Regions from separate parts of the Homo sapiens genome. Here region 1 is linked to region 2. Evidence: fine-mapped expression QTL. A gene starts in region 2. The other region holds a variant in brackets. All regions are shown on one strand. Distances are between the middles of the regions.

Region 1 (2,912 bases), 70 kb before region 2:
TTCAATATATAATATGAAGGGAACACAAACATCCATTCCATTACACTAGCACCTGCATTTGCAATCCAGCCTCTGGGCCAGGCTTAGCAGTGTAGAGCCCAAGGCTTCAATTGACAGGATTTTTATGCTCTCATGCTCTGGCTCCTTGGCTCCAGAAGCTTCTAGAACCAGTAGGGTGATACATCCTTTAGCAACTATATTGTAAAACACATGGTGGGTAAAAGAGTGCCCTATTAAGTATTTTGGTTATGCCCCCATTAGTGTGCTTGGCTCAATATATTAATAGTAAGTAGTGGTTCGCATCCACCCTCAGTACCACCCTCTGCAGTCATCCTGTCAGTTTCCATTCCATTCTCCTATCCCTGGCTTGCTGGTTCAATACTCTTAAGTGATTTACTGCTGGTGCTCTTCTTTTTCCCTCAGAGATACCTTGTGATTTCTTTGATTCTCTCCATCTCTACAGGTTAATAAGTCTAATATTTAAAAACTCTGTAGAGGGATGTTGGGAAGCTGTGGGGAGAGCCCTTGGGCTTTTCGCCTGGGTAAAGTGCAGATTCCTGAGAATTCTGGGCCTTGGCTTCCAGCTGCACTAGTGCCGGCCACTCAGCTGTTCTCAGCAGCGTCACCTGGCGCAATGGTGCTGAAGCGCACTGCCGAGAGGCCAGAAGGCAAAGCGAGAGTCGGTGGCTATGGCCTGGAACCCATTTAGGCAAAACAGAGGGCGCGCGGGGACAAAGCAATAGAGAAGGGTGGGCAATACAGGATCTGTACACCATACATTAGCAATTGTATTTATTAAATTGTTGATTACCTAAGCCTCCGGAGAGTAGTTTGGACGCTTACCGGTTTTCTGAGGATTATTTGGGGAAGGGGTATGCATGCAAATGTGTGTACATAATTCGTGTGATTTCGGAATATTGACTCCATGAGTTCCAGATGCAGATTTGGAACGTTTTTAAAAAACATTTTGTTTTTGTTGTCTCGCAAATCAGCCAGATCTGCAACTGTATCAGAGTAAAGCGAAGCCAAGCTGGACCCTTAGGAAATGCGCTAACATGTCATCCACTTTCGGTGTCTGCCTGTGAAAATTCAGGCGATAAAGAGAATGAAGAGAACCTTAAGGAATTGCTGGAACCAAAGTTAATATTAAGCAGGCCTGCTGTGACGTCCTCTTCCTGGCAGACCAGTGGAAATTGTAGCCTGGTCGACAATCTGTATAGATTGATGAGGTCTAAAATGTAGTCACAGGTTCAACTACTTTTCTGTTTTCCAACCTCGAGTAAACTCACTAAATTTAAGGGCTAACAAAAACAAAAACAAAAAAAAAAAAAAACCTATGTTTCCGCCCGGTTTCGAACCGGGGACCTTTCGCGTGTGAGGCGAACGTGATAACCACTACACTACGGAAACCACAAGCAGTACC[T/G]GCACGGCAAAATATAACCATGAAAATCTTAGATCGGCCGTTTCTATTATAGTTTCCAAATCCGAGATCGCACCACTGCACTCCAGCCTAGACGACAGAGCGAGAGTCTCAAAAAAAAGTTGGGAGAAGAAGGTGCCATTTTCCCTAGTTGCTTTTCTTACTGTGGTGGTGACCGCATTGCCTTCACACCTGAAGTCCAAGTGCTTCCACCCTGGGGAATATGCAGACAGCTGGGTCACTGGACGCCAGGCCGCAGAGCCGGCCTCGTTCTGCTTTTGGCTCTAAATGCAGTCGGGGGACGCGACTGGACCTCACCAGAGACTGGTGGGCTGTTACCCTTACCAGCGACTGGAGGGCCAAGCTCCCAAAGAGGCCTACTTCATGATCGCCTTAAATCAGGAAATTTCATGAAATCCCACCCCTCTACCGCCCCATTCCCATATTGTATCTCCTCCCCTGCCCACTCTGAGAGGATTCGCCCCCTTTCTGTCTCGTCTGGACCCTTTGGAGTCCCACATAGACAAGACAAAAGGGGCATTGCCTTTTCCTACAGGAGCGGGAAGAGCCGTCACAGCGGAGGAAACAGAGACTCACAGCGCGCATCCCCACATACTGCGCCCTGCCGAGTTCCAGCAAACCCAACAAAGCACTCTGAAGCTTCTCTGGAAAAGGAAGAAGTGTGAGGTTTCTGATACGGCAAGAGGAGCCAAAGAGAGGGGACCCAGGCCTTCCCCTAGCTCGAGAGAACAAACCCAGAAGAAGGGCAGATCCAAAGGAAAAGCGCAAAGGCGGCCCAACCCCACGACCTGAGCGAGCCAAGGGTCGCGGGTTAAATTGCGTTTATCAGAACAGTTGTTTGCTCACTGTCCCAAAGCCCTCCTAGGGACGAAGAAAACACTGGCATGGCACCAATCGCAGAAGGGGGCAGCATTGACACCCAGGAACAGGAGTGGAAAAGCAGGAAAAGCAGGGATCATCTCTCTCCTACCCCGTATATGGCTGCAGACATAGCAGTGGTTCTTTTCTCCAGGACCCAGTGAGTGTGCACCAGGAGAGAACATTATGCACGTTATTCATGGTGGCACCACCCAGGCTGAAAGTGAGCCTGTGCTGCTTGGGCTTTCAGGAAGGACGGGCCCAACTCTCCCTCCCTATACAGAGCTGCAGTGCCCTGGCAATGGAGGACAGACCATGGAGTTGCCTGCCCTGGACTCGGGGAAGAGGCTCTGCCCTAAACCCCATTTTAGTGGTAGCTGTCAGAGTGGCATATCCACAGACTTCAGCTGCACCACAGCCAGGAACCAAAGGACAAAGTCTTTATAAAATGAAGGTTGTGAGCTCTGTGACAGGGCATGATAGGGAAGCGGATCACATTCTTGCCTACTCAGGAGGAGGAGCTAGTGCACCTCTGCCCCTTCCCCTGAGACCTCAGCACACCCCGACATGATCTCTTTCCCACCATCCTGTCAGGGCAGGTTTTTCCACTGGA
Region 2 (2,836 bases):
GCATTTCCTTTGAGTAAGCACTACTGATTCTAGGAATGTGTCCTAAGGAAAAAATAAGTCAAATGTTTAAAGGTAGTCACAAGACTATTTTGGTAGTAAGCAGTCTTTTTTACTGGTCACACAGTAAAAAATTAGAAATAACCTACATGTTCATGAAGAGAAGTTGGTGAAATAAATTATGGTACATGCATACAGTAGAAAACTTTGGAGACAAAATAGTAAAATAGTTACAGATATAGGCTTTGAATATAAATTTTAACAAGCTGAGGCTTCTCTCGTCTCTTCAGAACACCCTGAGTTCTTCCCGGCCTTTCTTCCTTGCTTTTCATTTGTGTCAGTCAGCTCTTGCTCGTATAGCAATCCTCAAATCTCAGTAGCATATAAAGGTAAGCATTTAGTTCTCACTTACAAGTTTGCAGGGCAGGTGAGGCAGCTCTGCCTCAAGCCACAATGTCTAGGACAGCTCTGTTTCGCACTGTGGCTGACTAGCTAAAAAATGTTCTTGTCTCAGCAATCACAGGAGAACAAGAGGGTGAGAGATAATGTGTGAAGCTTCCTAAGTGCTAAGTTTGAAATTAGCACCATGTCATTTCCATTCACATTTCGCTGGCCAATGAAAGTCTCATGATGAGCCACAGTCAAGAGTCAGAGACATACCCTCATGAGGCTGTGGAGAGAGTGTAGATTCAGGGAGCGGTGAGAAACTGGGGCCAGTACACCAACTTACAGCATGATTTGTCATCATTTTTCATTCTCTGCTAGTAAGATTGCCAAAGTCTCTCTGCACTCATTGAATTCATTTAGCTCTCTTTAGCTCTCTTTTTTTAGCTCTCATTTAGTTTCCATTTAGCTCTCTTTCTCTCTTACCACAATACCTAAAAATCTTTTTATGGGGTTACAACTCTGTCTCAGGAGCCACCTCAGTTTGGTGGCACAGAGCTCCCCACTTGTACTCTGAAACTCTTTTCTTGAAGATATTGCTATCCATGTGCATGAGTTATTTTTCTTCTCCATAGCATCCACATTAAACAATTAATTACCTTGGATTTAGCCAAAATAAACACTCCAAATTCATGATGTCTTTCAGGAAGAGAGTTTGTTTTCTTTTTTAACCAAAATGGGAGATTGATCCTGTCTGTGTCCCCTAGAGGAGCAGAGGCTGGTTTGTATTAGGGCAGCTCTTGTAGATGAGTAACTTTTCCCATGGCCTCATAGAGGCTGATATAGAAACTTCTGGATTCAAATGATTGTTTGGAGGCATTAGCCAGGCATTGAACCAATTATAAAGAGTGAGGTTTTGCCATATTCTAACCGTAAGAAACAGAAACGGTAGAGGGTAAAAATAGAATAGAATGTCAATACAACTTTAGCCTTTTCCCTGGATTCTGAGAGTTCATAACCTGAAAATCAGAGATTCAAACTGGGAGAGATGGGCTAACAGGTATGAGCATGGGAAAAGCATGTTTCAAGAATTTGAGATGTATTTCCCAGAAAAGCAACATGATGAAAATGGTCAGAAAAGGCAATTTCCTTCCTCTTTTCTAATTTGGCTCTGGAGCCACCAGCAGAACCTCTTCAATATCTTGCATGTTACAGATTTCACTGCTCCCACCAGCTTGGAGACAACATGTGGTTCTTGACAACTCTGCTCCTTTGGGGTAAGTTGGACTCAGAGGGGACAGTTAGAAGGGTACAGGCTGTGGCTGTTGTGAGTCAAGAGTTTTGTCTTCCTGTGGTAACTCTGGGTAGAACTCATGAGTATGAAGCAACTTGTATCTGTGCTTCCATGGTTTATTAGAGCTTATTTTATGAAAAGGATGGGAAGGGCAACCCTGAGGTAGCATTAAGCCTGGACGCACCGCAGTGAAGTTTCCTTGATAACCACCTGTAGCTTGTTCAGTTCTGTTAGTACTGGATTTTGAGAAAGAGAAATAGAAACTCAAGAGATCTGAGTTGATCCCTCAGAGTCTACATTAATTCTGTCTCCCCAATTCTCTCTTCCTCATTATTTTCCTTGGACCAACTGATATCTTTATTCTCTGATCTCTTGCAGTTCCAGTTGATGGGCAAGTGGGTGAGTGATCTCTAACTCAGCTTCTCCTTCTATGCCACTTTCCTACTTCCAAAGGATGGGTCCTATTAACCTGCAGAAGAGCATATAGGGAAAGCAGAGAAAGAAGAAAGATTTATAAATTATGTAAAATCTCCCATATTCAGAGCATGATTTTCATAAAAACTATGATTTGTAAGCTTTCTTTCTAAAGTTTTCTGAATGAGCTCTTTCCTCTGAGCGAAATGCCTGAATGTATATATAACAGCAGGAAAGGGCCAGAATTGCACAAACACTAAAGTAGTCTGCTGACACTGAAGTAGTCTGCTGGGTTTCCCAACATCCCCTAAACCAGTCCCCTTTACAAGAAAGCAGAGTGGGTTTTTTCTCCTCAGAAAGAGCCAGGCAAATACTGAAGGCTTCAAAGAGAGGAGTTTGAACCTCCGTTTCCAATGTACAAGCTGCTGAAGCCCTGCAATGTACTCTCAGAGACAGTATAGCTCAGAGGATAAGGAAAACAGCTCCGCTTGGCTTGCCCAAGTCTAAAACCCTGCTTCATTGCTCCCAACAGAAAAACCTACATCAGTAATTTAATCCTCAGGAGCCCCAGATTCCCAACACCCAGATGAGGATTTAATAACAATGAACAGAGGTCTCTGCAGCAGGAGGACACTCTTAAAGGCTGGCTTTTGTAGGTTTCCACTTGCCTATTTTTCAAATAAATCTAAATATGTATTTTTCCCTTGTGCTATCCACAAAAGCCTCACCAGTTGCTCAGAGCCCTCC

What was found.
Region 1: its variant is fine-mapped to the expression of FCGR1A in blood mononuclear cells (TOPMed, PIP above 0.99).

Annotation. Positions count from the first base shown.
Region 1 is chr1:149,711,215-149,714,126 of GRCh38, forward strand. It overlaps TRV-CAC1-7 (tRNA-Val (anticodon CAC) 1-7), which reads right to left and starts at 1,410; the gene lies at 1,338-1,410. The variant T/G (reference allele first, on the strand shown) is at 1,424.
Region 2 is chr1:149,781,117-149,783,952 of GRCh38, forward strand. It overlaps FCGR1A (Fc gamma receptor Ia), which reads left to right and starts at 1,578. Exons shown (of 6, transcript NM_000566.4): 1 at 1,578-1,658; 2 at 2,054-2,074. The coding sequence starts at 1,628. LOC124904411 reads right to left here. Exons shown (of 2, transcript XM_047438183.1): 2 at 1,774-2,144. It also overlaps a transcript of H2BC18 not described here.